Regions from separate parts of the Homo sapiens genome. Here region 1 is linked to region 2. The links come from fine-mapping of genetic effects on gene expression. Tissue or cell type: whole blood. Region 2 holds a variant in brackets; the other region holds the start of a gene. All regions are shown on one strand. Distances are between the middles of the regions.

What was found. PIP is the estimated chance that this variant, and not a neighbour inherited with it, causes the effect.
Region 1: it holds the start of SCAMP2, and the variant in region 2 is fine-mapped to the expression of SCAMP2 in whole blood (INTERVAL, PIP 0.96).

The regions. Positions count from the first base shown.
Region 1 is chr15:74,870,008-74,878,108 of GRCh38, reverse strand. It overlaps SCAMP2 (secretory carrier membrane protein 2), which reads left to right and starts at 4,744. Exons shown (of 9, transcript NM_005697.5): 1 at 4,744-4,910. The coding sequence starts at 4,854. RefSeq lists enhancers at 6,561-7,546, 8,062-8,101.
Region 2 is chr15:75,029,221-75,037,321 of GRCh38, reverse strand. All of the region lies in intron 2 of PPCDC (phosphopantothenoylcysteine decarboxylase), which reads right to left. Among named protein-coding and RNA genes, the nearest start is that of PPCDC, 9.7 kb to the right of the region's middle. RefSeq lists silencers at 1-47, 3,250-3,443 and enhancers at 397-897, 5,398-5,898, 7,955-8,101. The variant T/A (reference allele first, on the strand shown) is at 3,716.

The DNA.
Region 1 (8,101 bases), 160 kb after region 2:
CGGGTTCAATCGATTCTCCTGCCTCAGCCTCCGGAGTAGGTGGGATTACAGGCGCCCCGCCACCATGCCCAGCTTATTTTTTGTATTTTTAGTATATAGACAGGGTTTCACTATGTTAGCCAGGCTGGTCTTGAATTCCTGACCTCATAATCTGCCCGCCTAGGCCTCTCAAAGTGCTGGGATTACAGGCGTGAGCCACCGCGCCCGGCCTATTTATTTATTTATTTTAGATGGAGTCTTGCTCTGTCTCCTGTGCTGGAGTGCAATGGCACGATCTCAGCTCACTGCAACCTCCACCTCCCGGGTTCAAGCAATTATCTGCCTCAGCCTCCCGAGTAGCTGGGATTACAGGCGACTGCCACCATGCTCAGCAATTTTTTTTGTATTTTTTAGTAGAGATGAGGCTTCACCATCTTGGCCGGGCTGGTCTTGAACTCCTGACCTTATGATCCACCTGCCTTGGCCTCCGAAAGTGCTGGGATTACAGGTGTGAGCCACTGCGCCCAGCCTCTGGGATCAGAGTTTTTAAAGATAATTTGGCCGGGTGTGGTGGCTCATGCCTGTAATCCCAGCACTTTGGGAGGCCGAGGCGGGCAGATCACGAGGTCAGGAGATCGAGACCATCCTGGCCAACATAGTGAAACCCCATCTCTACTAAAAATACAAAAATTAGCCGGGCATGGTGTCGCATGCCTGTAATCCCAGCTACTTGGGAGGCAGAGGCAGGAGAATCCCTTGAACCGGGGAGTTGGAGGTTGCAGTGACCCGAGATTGTGCCACAGCACTCTAGCCTGGTGACAGAGCAAGACTCCGTCTCAAAAAGAAAAAAAGAGAGAAAAAAAAAGATAATTTGGCTGGTAGGGGCTAGGCAAGTAGGGAGTGCTGATTGGTCGGGTTGGAGATGGAATCATAGGGGGTCGAAGTGAGTTTTTCTTGCTGTCTTCTGTTCCTGAGTGGGATGGCAGAACTGTCTGAGCTACATTACTGTTGGAGGTGGTGTCAGCAGATCCATCAAGTGCAAGGTCTGCAAAATATCTCAAGCACTGATCTTAGGTTTTACAATAGTGATGTTATTCTCAGGAGCAATCTGGGGAGGTTCAGACTCACAGCTGAAGGCTGCATGGTCCCTAAACCATAGTTTCTAATCTTGTAGCTAATTTATTAGTCCAGAAAGGCAGACTGGTCCCCAGGCAAGAAGGGATTTTTTTTTTTTTTTTTTTTTGGAAAAGGGCTATAATCAATTTTGTTTCAGAGTTAAACTATAAATTCCTTCCCAAGGTTAGTTCAGCCTACACCCAGGAATGAACAAGGACCACTTAAAGGTCAGAAGCAAGATGGAGTAGGTTAGGTCTAATCTCTCCCACTGTCATAATTTCCTCAGTTATAATTTTTGCAAAGGTGGTTTCAAGATCAAGATGAGAAAAATGGGTCTTGGAGAGGTGAAATAACTGGTTTAAAAGCAAAGAGCTGCATTCTCTATACCTCCTCTCTTGTAGAATAAATGAATGATGTCTCTCTTGTAGGGAATTAGACAGATAGATGGGCAGCCACCACATTGGTTGTAATTAAGTTTCATTCTTTCTTCACCAGCCCAGCATTGTACTTGGCTGCAGCAGACCCAGAGCAGGCAGGACTGCCTTGTGGGGTGTGGACTGTTCTCCTCTGAGGCTGCAGAGAGCAGACAGCAAAGATCTGTCTGCTGCCCTTGAGGGGTGGCCATAGAGGCTTGGGGACAGGCAATTTCTAAGGGGATACAAAATGGATCCTTCCCCATCCTCCCACTTGTGTGCAGATATTTCCCGAAGTAAAGCTGAGCTAAACCCTAAAGGATAGTCAGGATTTAGATGGGAGAGGAAGGTGAAAGAAACAGATGACCAGGCGCAGTGGTGTGTACCTGTAGGCCCAGTACTTTGGGAGGCGGAAGTGGCAGGATCAATTGAAGCCAGGAGTTCAACACCAGCTTGGGCAACAAAGTAACACCCTGTTTCTAAATAAACAAACAAAATAAATGGATGCAGGGAAACAGTAAAATAGTTACTAAATGTGTATGATGCATGTGGGCTGGGCACAGTGGCTCACGCCTGTAATCCCAGCACTTTGGGAGGCCGAGGCGAGCAGATCATTTGAAATCAGGAGTTCAAGACCAGCCTGGCCAAGATGGTGAAACCCAGTCTCTATTAAAATTACAAAAAAAAAAAAAAAAAAATTAACTGGGTGTGGTGGTGAGTGCCTGTAATCCCAGCTACTTGGGAGGCTAAAGCAGCAGAATCTCTTGGACCTGGAAGGCGGAGATTGCACTGAGCTGAGATCATGCCACTGTACTCCACCCTGGGTGACAGAGTGAGACTTTGTCTGGAAAAAAAAAAAACCCCAAACCCACAAAAAATAAATTAATAAATGTGTATCATGTGCTTTATACTATGTTAGTGACAGAAACACAACAGTGAGCAAAACAGACCTCAGCCCTACCCTCATGGAGCTTTCAGTCTAGCGGAGGATACAGGCATAAAGAACCACCTATACTAGTATTAATTACAATCTGCAATGGGTATTGTGAAGGAAAAGTACAGGGCAATAGGAGAGCTTATGTTGGGTATGAGGTGATGATGTAACCAAGAGAGTGAAGGGAAGCTACTCCTGAAGAAAGGCATCTGAACTTGCATTTAAAGGGTAAGGAGAGGTTAACCAGAGGATGATAGTGGGGCATGGGTTAAGTGCATACCAGGTAGAAGGAACACATGTGTAAAGGCCCTGAGACAGGAGGGCACAAGGAAGGTTTGAGCAACTGAAAAGAACTTGCATGGCTGGAACAGTGGGTGGGGGTTGGGGGCTAGAAGGGGTCAGAAGGGGAGAAACGTAGGGGCAGATCCTTTAGGACCTTGAAGACAAACTAAGAATTTGGGCCTTTATGATTTTTTTTTTTTTTTTTTGAGACAGAGTTTCACTCTTTTTGCCCAGGCTGGAGTGCAATGTTGCAATCTTAGCTCACTGCAACCTCCGCCTCCCAGGTTCAAACGATTCTCCTGCCTCAGCCTCCCAAGTAGCTGGGATTACAGGTGTGCACCACCACACCCAGCTAATTTTGTATTTTTAGTAGAGATGAGGTTTCACCATATTGGCCAGGCTGGTCTCGAACTCTTGACCTCAGGTGATCTGCCTGCCTTGGCTTCCCAAAGTGCTGCGACTACAGGCATGAGCCACCTTGCCTGGCCTGATTTTTTTTTTTTTTTTTTTAACTGAGACAGGGTCTCACTCTGTCACTCAGCTGGAGTGTAGTGGTGCAAAGATGGCTCACTGCAGCTTTGACCTCCTGAGCTCAAACAGTCCTCCTGCCTCAGCCTCCCAAGTAGCTGGGAGTACAGGCACAGGCCACCATGCCTAGCTAATTACGTGTGTGTGTGAGATATGTATATGTATATATATATATATATATATATATATATATATTTTTTTTTTTTTTTTTTTTTTTTTGTAGAGCCAGGGTCCTGGTATGTTGCCTAGGCTGGTCTCGAACTCCTGGCTTCAAGTGATCCTCCTACCTCTGCCTCCCAAAGTACTGGGATTACAGGCATAAGCCACGCACCCAGCCCTTTATGGAAATTAATTGAAAAATTTTAACAAAGTTCTGTGATAATTTTGCCCCCTTTAAACATATCTTTGATTACAACATGAAGAACAATAGACCAATTAACAGCACTGTATTAGTTCAGGGTAAAAATGACAGTGGCTGGGATTCGGTGACAGCAGAGATGAATAATACCAGACAGATCCAAATAAATAAGGTGGATTTGGCCAGACAGTGGTTCATGAGTATAATCCTAGCATTTTAGGAAGCCAAGGCGGGAGGATCACTTCAGCCCAGGTGTTTGAGACGAGCCTGGGCAATATAGTGAGATCCCCATCTCTACAAAAAATCCATAAATTAGCTGGGTATGGTGGTGACCAGCTGTAGTCCCAGCTACTCAGGAGGCTGAGGTGGGAGGATTGCTTGAGCCCAGGAGCTCGAGGCTGCAGTGAGCCATGATTGCACCACTGCACTCCAGCCTGGGCGACAGTGAGACCCTGTGGGGGGCGGGGGCGGGGGAAAGCGGAGCTGTGGAGAGTGAAGCAGCCACCTCCCCCATGATTGAGGCTGTGTTGCTGAATTCCGTGAGTCACTTCATAAATGTTTGATGTCCAGGTTCAAGTCCCAACTCAGGTCCCAAAGCTGATGGGCCCAGGAACCCTCGTCCCTAAAACGATGAAACGACATCAGAGGGCGAGCAGCCCTAGAAGAAGCAGGCTCAGCTCGGGTGGAGGACTGCTGGATGGTCCTGGCACTTCTCTTTCCCCGAGCACGTTCTGCAGAAGAAGCGCTTTCCTAGTTCTCCCAAGGCCTCTGGCCTCACCTGTCACCCCTGTCCTTTGCCCAGGGATCAGTTTGGACTTCTTCCCAAACTTGGTCTACAGAGAAGTGAAGGGGCTGTTTCCTGTCCCACTTTTGAGAGTTTGCTTTAGAAACATAAAATTGGAAGGTGTCAGATTGATAGGCAGTTGGGAAGGACTCCGGCCACGCCTCTGGCTCCGTAGACGCTCCGCGCAGCCAAGACCCCTGAATCCCCAGCAGAGCGAAGATGTGGACGGAAGCCGAATGCCCACCCACCGCACTATTGTGGGCTGGGCGGGGGGGGGGGGGGGGGGGGCGGAGCGACCCCGGTGCCGTCATAGGGCCACGCCCTCGGGGGAGGGCATCGCGCCTGCGCCAGAACCGCTGCCTCGCTCCCGGAAGTGGAGGGTCTACACGAAGCGCCGCTGGGTCTGGGTGCCCGGAGGCAGCAGCGTTCGCGGAGTTCGCCCGCTGGCCCCCGATCACCATGTCGGCTTTCGACACCAACCCCTTCGCGGACCCAGTGGATGTAAACCCCTTCCAGGTAGAGCCCCTCTCCCGCCATCCAGCTCTCAGATTTCCCTAGGGCCCACGGCCGCCGCCCGGGCCTCTCGCTAGAGCCGGGAGACGTGGCGTAGGAGGGACGGGTCATCTGCCCAATGGGAGAGCGGGCTTTGAGGTCTGGCCTATCGTAACGCGTGAGGGGCGCGACTAGCAGCAGGTGGAACTGCAGAGGAGGCGGGGCGCTGAAGTGTTGGAGACAGTGGGGTCTTCTAGCACCCGGAGGCTGGGCTGTGCTAGGGAAGGGGACTGGAGCAGGTACGGTCGGACCCTTCCGGAAGTCTCCTAGCGTCAGGGAGAAGCGAAATGTGGCTATCGCATTCCCTCATTCTTGGATAGACACCTGTCTTGAGTCACTTTAGAAGAGGGGGTGACAGCAACATATGAGGAGGTGGTGAAGCCTCTGGTGGAGGGGAAAAATGTGGGAAAAGCCCAGGACACCTGCCACCGCTCCACCACCAGCCAAACTAGTGTATAAAGTACAGGAGAGCCCCTGAGATTTGTCAGGGAAAGAAAGATGGGAGAGGGCGGGAAGGTAGCCCAAGTTGAAAAATGGCCTTGATAAGAATTCCACATTTTGGCCATGGGTCTAGTTTGGAGTGGGTTTTGACCAGATAGGAGAGCCCGGGTTAGGGAGAGAGGAGAGGTGCGGGGGACTGTGAAAAATTCTGGACCCACAGGGAACGTTTGTCTGATGGAACTGTGTGTGGTGGCAACATAGTTGAGATGCACTGACGTGTGAGCTGGCCTGACTTTTTTTTTTTTTTTTGAGACGGAGTCTCGCTTTGTCGCCCAGGCTGGAGTGCATTGGCACGATTTCCGCTCACTGCAACCTCTGCCTCCCGAGTTCAAGCAATTCTCCTGCTTCAGCCTCCTGAGTAGCTGGGACTACAGGCGTATGCCACCACACCCAGCTAATTTTCATACTTTTAGTAGAGACGGGGTTTCACCGTGTTGGCCAGGCTGGTCTCAAACTCCTGACCTCAGGTGATCCATCCGCCTCGGCCTTCCAAAGTGCTGGGATTACAGGTGTGAGCCACCACGCCTGGCCTGACCTTTTGAACAGCAATCAAGGAAGAAACAATCTTCCTGCTTTCTTTCTTTTCCTTTTTTTTTGTTTTGTTTTGTTTTGTTTTTTGAGACAATTCTTGCTCTGTCGCCCAGGCTGGAGTGCAGTAGCGCGATCTCGGCTCACTGCAGCCTCAGCCTCCTGGGTTCAAGTGATTCTCGTGCTTCAGCCTCCCGAGAAACTGGGATTACAGGTGTGCACCACCACACCCGGCTAATTTTTGTATTTTTAGTAGAGACGGGGTTTCACCTTATTGGCCAGACTGGTCTCAAACTCCTGGCCTGAAGTGATCCACCCACCTTAGCCTCCCAAAGTGCTGGGATTACAGGGGTGAGCCACCACACCTGGCCTCTTTTTTTTGAGACAGAGTTTTGCTCTTGTTGCCCAGGCTGGAGTGCAGTGGCGCGATCTCGGCTCACTGCAACCTCAGCCTCCTGGGTTCAAGCAATTCTCCTTCCTCAGCCTCCTGAGTAGCTAGGATTACAGGCATGCACCACCACGACCGGCTAATTTTGTATTTTTAGTAGAGACGGGGTTTCTCCACGTTGGTCAGGCTGGTCTCGAACTCCCGACCTCAGGTGATCCACCTGCCTCGGCCTCCCAAAGTGCTGGGATTACAGGCATGAACCACTGCGCCCAGCCCTCTTTCTTCCTTTTTTAAGGCAGGGTCTCACTCTGTCGCCCAGGCTGTAGCACAGTGGAGGTCATGGCAGCCTTGACCTCCAGGATTCAAATGATTATTTGAATCCCACCTCAGTCTCCTGAGTAGCTGGGACTACAAGAATGTGCCACTGGGCCTGACTCCTTTTAAAAAAAATTTTTGTAGAGAAGGGGTCTCGCTGTGATGCCCAAGCTGGTCTCGAAATCCTGGTCTCAAGCAATCCTCTGGCCCCAGCCTCTCAAAGTGCTATGATTACAGGCATGAGCCACAGGACAGTCTTCCTACTTAAAGCCCACACCTTTCTGCCTTTCAGCTGAGAGCACAGGGATGATCTTTTTCCACCATGAGGGGCTGAACTGTTACCTCCAGAGCTCCTATGCCTCTTGTTTCACGTCTGCTCAAAACCCGTTCTAGGGAAGCTTGTTTGTGCTGACTGGTGAATTATGAGCCCTGATATTCTGCTCTGTCAGGATGTCACCAGGCACATTAACTCACCCTGCTTGTCCTTTATTTTGGTCATTGGCAGCTTTTAAGTTTCCTGCAGGTGTCAGAGAAGTCCTTGAAGGAGTCCTTCCTGTCATTCACAGCATGAGTTTTCCCACTTTGAATCGCTTCAAGGGTCAGAGCAAAATCAAAGGAGACTTGAACTAAATAATTATACGCTGTCAGGAGAGTGAAAATGTTTTGCTTCTTTCTTGGTCTCAAGGTGTCTTAGCCAACAGGAGCCCTCAGGGCAAATTCTGATAGCTTGTTCCTTAGAACATCAGGGAATTCTGAACATTCCTCTCGTAGCTTAATGTTTCTTGACAGAGCGTTTGCAAGGACCTTGTCTCTTATGTAAGGCAAACAGTCATCTCTATTGAGTAAAGAAAGAAGATTTGCATTTTTTTTTTCTGCCAATGTCTTCTGGTAACAGACTTTAATTACAAAACTGCTGTATAATACTGGGGTTTGGGTTTTAGTAGGATCTTGTAGCCTTATGGTGTATGTTGTATGTGATGATTTTCCATTTTTTATGTGTGTTTTTTTGTCCTCTCAGAATCAGAAATAAAAAGTCTGCTGCTGTCTGACAGAGAGGAAGTCAGTTGTCTAAAAATGCAGAGAGCTTTGCTCCAGTGTTAGCAGAGGGCAAGATAGTTCTACCCTGTATTAATAGCTGCTTGAAAGTCTTAAACCTCATCTCTGGCTCCAAAAATGACTGTGCAAACTGTGGTAGAAGTAACTTCTGCATTCTAGCGAGACAGTCTGTCCATCAGGAAGCCCCAGGATATGGCATGACAGGAAGCAGCTGTGGTCCTGTCAACCAGCCACATCTGGTGGGGAGTCCTGGGTGGGAAGAAGAAAGCTGGCTGGCTGGCTGCGATTTGCTCCTCCTCATCCTGGGCTGGGCTTTTCCTCTTGGCACACAGTGGTGTGGGGAGAAACAGCTTTGGATGTGAGGCCT
Region 2 (8,101 bases):
CTCTGGACCACATTCTTCCTTCATCTCTGGTTACATGTCCTCCCTTCCACTTAACTGTTTTCCAGCTCCTTCAACAGAAGGCTTCAGGTAGCCAGAGACCACATCTCTGCTAATACACTGCCTGCTTCTGCTCATGGGACCACCATCTTTCATTTCTAAGAGCTTCCCAACCATCCTGAACCATTTGCTACTTAAGAATGTCCCAGGTTCATCGCCTCTATTCTGAAATTTGGAAAGCTACTTCCTGAAGGTCTAGGTCCTCCACTCTCCCCAGCTCCCAAAACCATCTTCCAGTTTGCAAAGCGGAGAACCTTGCCTAGTGCTGGCCTTCAGAATCATCCCCAAATTGGGCGCCAGGCATGGTGGCTCATGCCTGTCATCCCAGCACTTTGGGAGGCAGAGACGGGCGGATTGCTTGAGCTCAGAAGTTTGGGATGAGCCTGGGCAACAGGGCAAAACTCCTTCTCTACAAAAAAAAAATAATCAATCAATCATCCATCAATAAAAAAATAAAAAGAATCATCCCCAAATTGGTAATGCCCTTGATTCAGGGGTTCTCGCCTCCCTCTCAACTCTACCCTTTCTTCCTTCCCTACACCGTCACTCAAGGTCTCAGAGCCTTTAGGCCCCCACTGTCCCCTGGGGAGCTCCACCCGGGGTCCTGTTAAGCCTCTCACCCTGCTTGAGATCTTCCCTCTAAGCTCTTTGCCTAACCTCTCAGAGGCTCCACTCTCTAGCCACCCTCCCAGGTTACAGTCACATTGTTAGGGAGCCTCCTGGGGTCAAGGTCTTCACTAAGGAGTAATGCGAAGAGTATGTGATGGGCGGGTCTTTCCTGATGCCCCACCTCTGACCCACTGAAGCAGCTGACTCTCCTTGGAGGTGACCCTGACTGACCCCAGTGCTGTCTAGCAGGCCCAGACTAGTTTTTCTGGTTTTAGAGGGATGTCACTTGATCTGATTCATCAGCCCTATGGGCTTTGTTCTTTTATTTTCATTCACTCCACCAAAAGGTCCTGGGAGCCAAGGGCTGGGCCCTGTACACATTAAAATAAATAAATAAATAAATAAAACCATGTGTTATCTTCTATGATACTAAATAATTCTGACCGTTTACTCATTTACCTTGACCTTTTCCCAGCAAATGCCAAGGAGCCCTGGCAGGGCAGAAACTCCCTGAGGGCAGGAGCCTTCCTTGGCTTTCTCTTACACCTTTGTGGGTCCTGGTAGAAGCAGCGCTGGGCATTAAAAAAGAATCCCCCATATGCTACAGAATTCCTGAAAGGCAGCTCCCGGCTTAGTCCCCTGCTGACACCACTTAGAAAAAAGTTTTTTTCCTTTTTTTTTTTTTTTTTTTTGAGACACAGTCTTGCTCTGTGCAGGCTGGAGTGCAATGACACTATCTCGGCTCACTGCAACCTCTGCCTCCTGGGTTCCAGAGATTCTCCTGCCTCAGCCTCCAGAGTAGCTGGGATTACAGTTGTGCGCCACCACGCCCAGCTAATTTTTGTATTTCTAGTAGAAAGAGTGTTTCACCATGTTGGCCAGGCTGGTTTCAAAGTCCTGGCCTCAGGTGATCTGCCCACCTCAGCCTCCCAAAGTGCTGGGATTACAGGTGTGAACCACCACGCTCAGCCTACCTGAGAAAAGTTTTTACAGCTAATAGTTTTAAGCTAAATCTCTTTGTGTATGTGACTGAGGCTTGGACAGACCCTATTACATAAGCTGCCTGCATTTTATCTAGCATGTATAGAGATTCCTTCCCGAAACCAGTTGGCAAGTCTAGTTTCCTTTTCTTTGCTGAAGAGACATCAGGAATCCTGATTTGGGTCTGGTCAGGAGAAATGGAATGAGGATTTAGAGTGATACCTCCCGTTTCTACTTCAGGCCCCTAGTGTGGCCAGGCTACGTCTGGGGCAGATTATCAAAGGAACTCGTGGAGAGGCACTTCGCAGCCACAGGATGAGACAAATCCCATGGCCTGAGTCTCCACCGCCAAGCCCATTCCTGGCCTCTACCCACTAGAACCAAGAGCCAGTAGCACCACCATCCCTAAGTTAGGACAACCAAAAATGTCTCTGGACATTATCCAATGTCCCCTGGGAGGGAAAATCACCCCCGTTGAGAACCACAACTCTACAGCATTATCCGTGAAGAGCATTTCCATCTCTGCAATGATGGGAACGGCCCTACCTGTGCCGTAGGGTGTGGCAGCACTGGCCACATGTGGCCACTGAGCATCTGAGGTGTGACTGCTGTGACTGAAGAACTGAATTTTTTATTAAATTCTAATTAATTTAAATTTAAATTTGAATGTGGCAAGCGGCTGCCACATTCAAATTTACATTTATCGGATAGCACAGCTCTGGAATATACAAGAAAATTTAAATATATCAGATAGCACAGCTCTGGCATATACAAGAAAAGGAGAAGAGCCCAACTGGAACTAGCAGCTGAGTGGCTGGAGAGCAGGCGTTTCTAGTAGGGCGTGATGATGCCTCCACTGGAGACCAAGGAGGATTCTAAAGAGGAAGTGGTAGCCCCGCACTTAATCTGTGACAAGACAAGGAACCCAGGGCTTTGGTGGCCCAGTCCTCTGGGCCAGGACGCACAGCAGAGGACTCTGACATTGGGTCTACCAGTGTTGACGATGGCATGCTCCAGATCTGTGCCCAGGTCCTAGCGGCCAGCTAAGAAGCTGACACTAACCTGAGCAGGGGAGTTGGTGGGTACATTCTAGGACAAAGGATTCTTGGGGCCCAGTGCGGTTGGCACATGAGGCGCGGGAGCTGTGAAGGAGGTGGCCTCCTTAACAAAACCCCCAAGGGAGTTCCGGTTGGCTCAGTGGGTTCCATGGCTCATGATGATGCCTCTACTCGGCAAACATTTACTAAGCCTCTTATATGGTGGGGGCAGGGCTGATAAGATCCAAGCTCTGGCCTCTCCTAGGGCTCAGTCTAACAGATAGGTGGGGTACAGGTAACCCCTAACTGCAAGGCAGACCAAGATAGGAATCCACAAATTCCACCATCCTCAAGCATTGGTGAGCTTGAGCAGAGAATGAGCTCCAGGTCTGAGCTCTTCAATTCACTCACTGATAGGACCCAGGAAACCTGGCCTCAAGCCCCCAGTTCTGCTAACTCACTCACTCCCTGGAAGGCCGTGGGCGAGACCCTCTTCCTCTGTGCCTGGTTTCCCCTTATGACCCATGCATGGGCCATTTAGACCACATGGTAGGGCTCCATCTAGCTCACCGTACCACCCCAGCCCTTCTGTGACCCTGACCTTTCCCACCTGGCTCTGCAGGAAACAGTCGTGCTCTCATCTGCCCCTGGGGGAGCTGGTGTTCTGGTTGTGTCAGCTCCTCATGCCAACCCTTCTGTGTGCTTCCCCAACTTCAGAAAATTCTCAAGAAGGAAACCAGGGAGGTGGTCTAGGGAGGCTCTGCACAGGAACGTTGTTCTGGGCAATCAGGGAAGGACCCTGGGGTGCGGGACCCTCTGCCCAGAGGCCGACAGAGCTCTGTCCCTAGAGGAGCAGGTGACAGGGCTGCAGGCCAGAGGAGGAAGGGGCCAGCCAAGCAGGCAGAGGCACAAATAAAGGTCTCAGAGTTTCCACATCAGGACACAGAGCGGGCAGGTGGCCCCCACCCAGAAAAAAAGAGAAATCCTCAAACCAGGCCTTATGTCTTCTGCTCTTTCCTCAGTGAGCACTT[T/A]AAAAAAAAAAAGCACAAACTTATCAAGAATGTTCCCCAATATTCCCACCAAAAGCCCCACTGACTTAAAACAAACAAACAAACAAAAAAACACACACACACAAATATACACATAGGTTACAAATTAAAACTGAACAGAATGATACAAAAATGAAAAATGCAAGTTTCCCTTCCTCCACTGGTCCCCCTTCACAAGGGTAACCACCTCCAGAGGAAAAAACTGTGTGCAGTAACTCAGTATAAGAACACACAGAAGGAATCAGGCTGCATACCAGGGGTCGGCAAACCTTCTCTATAAAGGGCCAGATGATATTTTAGGCTTTGTCGTAATGATTTAACTCTGTAGTAGCACGAATGCAGCCATAGGCAATACGTAAATGAATGGGTATGGCTGTGTTCCAATAAATTGTCTTGGACATGAAATCTGAATTTCATATCACTTTTTTTCCGAGTCATAAAATACTATTTTTCTTTTGACTTAATCATTTAAAAATGTAAAAATCAGGCCAGGCACAGTGGCACATGCTTGTAATCCCAGCACTTTGGGAGGTGGAGGCAGACAGATCACTTGAGCCCAGGAGTTTGAGACCAGCCTGGGCAACATAGCAAAATCCTGTATCTACAAAAAGAATGCAAAAAAATTAGCAGAGTGTGATGGCACGCCTGCAGTCCCAACTATTTGGGAGGCTGAGGTGGGAGGACTGCTTGAGCCTGGGAGGTCAAGGCTACAGTGAGCAGTGATCACACCACTGCACTCCAGCCTGAGCAACAGAACAAGACCCTGTCTCAAAAATAAATAATAAAAATTAAAATGTAAAAATCATTCTTAGCTGTAGGCTATACAAAAACAGGCAGAGCCGAATTTGGCCTTGGGGGGGGGGGTCCAGTTTGCTAGCTCCTACACCCTGCTTATTCCGCTTCCATCTTGATGATTGCTCCCTTCAGCACAGAGAGAGCCACCCCATTTTTCTGAATCATTGCCAAGTAATCCACTGAGAGATTGTCCCATAAATCATAAGGGCACCACAGCTCTCTACTGCTGGATATTTTGTTTGCTTCCAGTTTTGCTTTGAAATTATAAATAATGCTATAATGGACATCCTTTCACTTTGTAAATACACCCCACAGAGTTTAATCCTGTGGGTAAATCAAGGACTATGAAGATGTTTTAATTTCTCTCAATATTGTCAAGTGGTCCTCCAGAAAGTCAGAATTTACTCCACACTGCATATGAGCAGAGCCTTCTTTTCCTCACCCTCGACAGACCTGGATGTCCTGACAGACACCCTAGAAATGTATCCTTCTCTGAGCCCGAGGCCTGCTGACTCCTTGAGTTGGGGGTTTTCTCTATCTTTAGAAATCCCCTTTTGGCTCTGAATTCTGCTGACACCTGCCCTGGCAAAAGCTAGGGCGATGTCTGTCTTCTCCTCCCAAGTTTGAAGGGTGTGGATGAAGGAGTTCAGGAAATGCCACCCCATAATATGCGGCTTTGGTATGCTGATTATTTCAAACCTGAAGGCACTGGGGGAAAAACAAATGCAGGGAGGAACTTTCTCTGAACTTCTCTTATCTGCCTAAAGAGGGATTCCCCTTGTCCTGAGTCCCCCTCCCTGAGAAAGGAAGACTGACTTATTGACAATCTGCTGAGGCATCTTTTATTATCTGAGAGGTTTTTATCTGCCTAACAAGACCGTATAATTCCTCCCCTCACCCTCCCATAACTTGTGTCGCCACCACCCCCAGAAGCCCCAAGCCCCTATTTCCTTCTGTAGCTCAGGCTGCTATACAGGCTTCAGCCATCTCACCCTTCTGGGAATCTCATATTTTGTGGTACACCCATGTGCAGATATGTAACTAAATATGGTTTTCTCCTGTTGATCTTGTTTTTTGTTGTTATTGTTTTGAGATGGAGTCTTGCTCTGTTACCCAGACTGGAGTGCAGTGGCATGATCTCAGCTCACTGCAACCTCTGCCTTCTGGGTTCAAGCGATTCTCCTGCCTCCGCCTCCTGAGTAACTGGGATTATAGGCGCCCACCACAACCGGGTAATTTTTGTATTTTTAGTAGAGCTGGGGTTTTACCATGTTGGCTAGGGTGGTCTCGAACTGGCCTCAAGTGATCCGCCCGCCTCAGCCTCCCAAAGTGAGCCACCGCGCCCGGCCCTGTTAATTTTGTTTATAAGTCAGTTGAACTCATAGCCCAGCCAAGCAGCCTAGCAAGATGGAGGAAAGCCATTTTTGCTCCCCTGCATGGGCCAGGCTGCCAACCCCAGGGAAGAAACTGCCTGAGCTGACAACCCGGATTTTACTGCCACTCAATTACATGACAACTACGGAACTACAAAACCCCCGGCATCCTGAAGCTCCTGAGCCCCAGGACCTTCTCTCAGGCTGCCTTTGGGTCCTAGTCCTTTTTGCCCTCACATCTAGAATCTTCTAACACCAGTGCCAGAAGAGGCCCTGGAGATGGATCATTTGAGAACCTGCCCCTCCTTCACTGTGTGGATAAGAAAATTATGGCCAAAAAGAACGGACTTGCCCAGGGTCCCAGCGTCAGAAATGTGCTCAGCTGCCTCTCTTGTGACACGGTTGCCCACCTGCCCCAACATACTCAAGGTCATCTCTGCTAGTGACTACTCTCCCTGACTGCTGGTGTGTGTGGCTTGTGGCTAATCCATGTCTCTCCACCACCCCTCACAGTCTCCCTGATTTGGCTACCTTGACATTAGCGGCTTTCCCGGGATGTCTGGACATACTGGTCAATCAGGAACAGTGATGGGCCAGATCTGTAGAATCCCCCAGCTCCCTGCAGCCCACACCCCAGCTGTTCATGTGCTAGACAAAATCTGGATGTACCTAAGGAAGTTCCGGAAAGCCTTGAGCACCTGAACCCACGACTCAGCAGGTGAAGAGCTGAAAGTGACTGCTCCAAGGGACAATGATGCTCCTGCAGGAGATCCAGCAGGAGGCAATGTGGAGATCAGGGCCATCAGGGAGTGAAGGGGAGTGTGCAGGGATAGACGCCACCACTGGGGCCAACACAAGGCAATCCAGGGATTACCTTTGGATCCCAACACCTCACGAGGGCCCTAATAAGCAAGGCCAGGCTTGGAGAGCTGTCTCCCTGCAGATGAAAGGCATGGGCCCTCCACAAGAGCAGGTGAACTGTGGCTTCCATGGCTCTTCCCAGTGGGGTTGCCCCACACCATGTGGCTGGCCCAAAGGACATGAACAAGGGGAAAGGACAGGGTGATGGCCAGGAAACACACACAACCGAGTGCTTCAACATGCCAGGCTCTGTGCTGAGTCACTGGCACAGGACCATTTTCATCTGTGACCCCTCCCACCCCAGCCAACATCTCAGGGAGCCTGACAAGAGTCTGGGGGATGGGCAGCAGGAATCAGCCCTATTTTCAAATGGGAAAGGCAAGCTCCAAGAGGCTGAGTCGGGGAGCCCTCCCTCCCAGTTCAGTGCCCTCTGGCTGCCTCACTTTTGGCATCAACTCCAACCAGAGAGGGGAAGCCAAGTCCTGTTCCAGACATGGCCTGCCATCCCATGGGGCCCAGGCTAAAAGGCCCTGGGGTGGGCTGGAGCACCTCCCTGCTCCAGGCAACCCTTTCCTCACAACCCCCCTCCCACCAAACGCTGGCTGCGTGGGATGGGAGGAAGCGGTAGGGTTGCCATTTCCCTCCGCTCTGAGGCTGCCCATCTGTTTCCTGGGATAGGACTCCCCGCCCCTATCCACCCCTAGTCCGGAAACTCACTTGCCCTGGGGCTATGGGAAAAGGGAACTGCATGGCTCCCTCCCTCCCCAGGGGGTGGTGGCAGAGGCCTCCCACCCTCACGGCTCTAGCTGGGCAGCTCCTACCAATGCTTCTGGGTACACAGCGGGTGGCTGGGCCTAAGCAGCACTGCCCTAAAAGTGCAGCACCCAGTGTCAGAGTGCCACGAGACTCTCCTCCCTCCCCCACTCTGGCCTGGCTGTCATCCCTGGCTGGCAGCTTCATGGCTTATCCCAGCCCTGGGGGTGGGGTGATGGGGTGACTTTCTGGGTGGAAGTTGGTGGAAAGTAAAAAAGTGAAACACTTCCCAGCCCAGCCCCAGCTGATGTGACCACGTGGTCATCTGTGAGTAAGCACCGCCCCCTGCTGGACATGCCAGATACGGCCACTGCACCTTGGGTGCTCAGCTGATAACAAGAGGGAAAAGCCAGGCCTGGGGCCCAGCAACTTCACAAGACCCCACCAAAAACTAGGGGCCAGTAACACCAGCAGTGTCTAAGGCAACCTATAGTTCTATGTCAAATAAGTTTAAAAGAAGGGGCCAAAACCACAGGGGCTGGGCTGGGGCAGACAGGGAAGGCTTTGCACAGAATGTGAAAAGGCG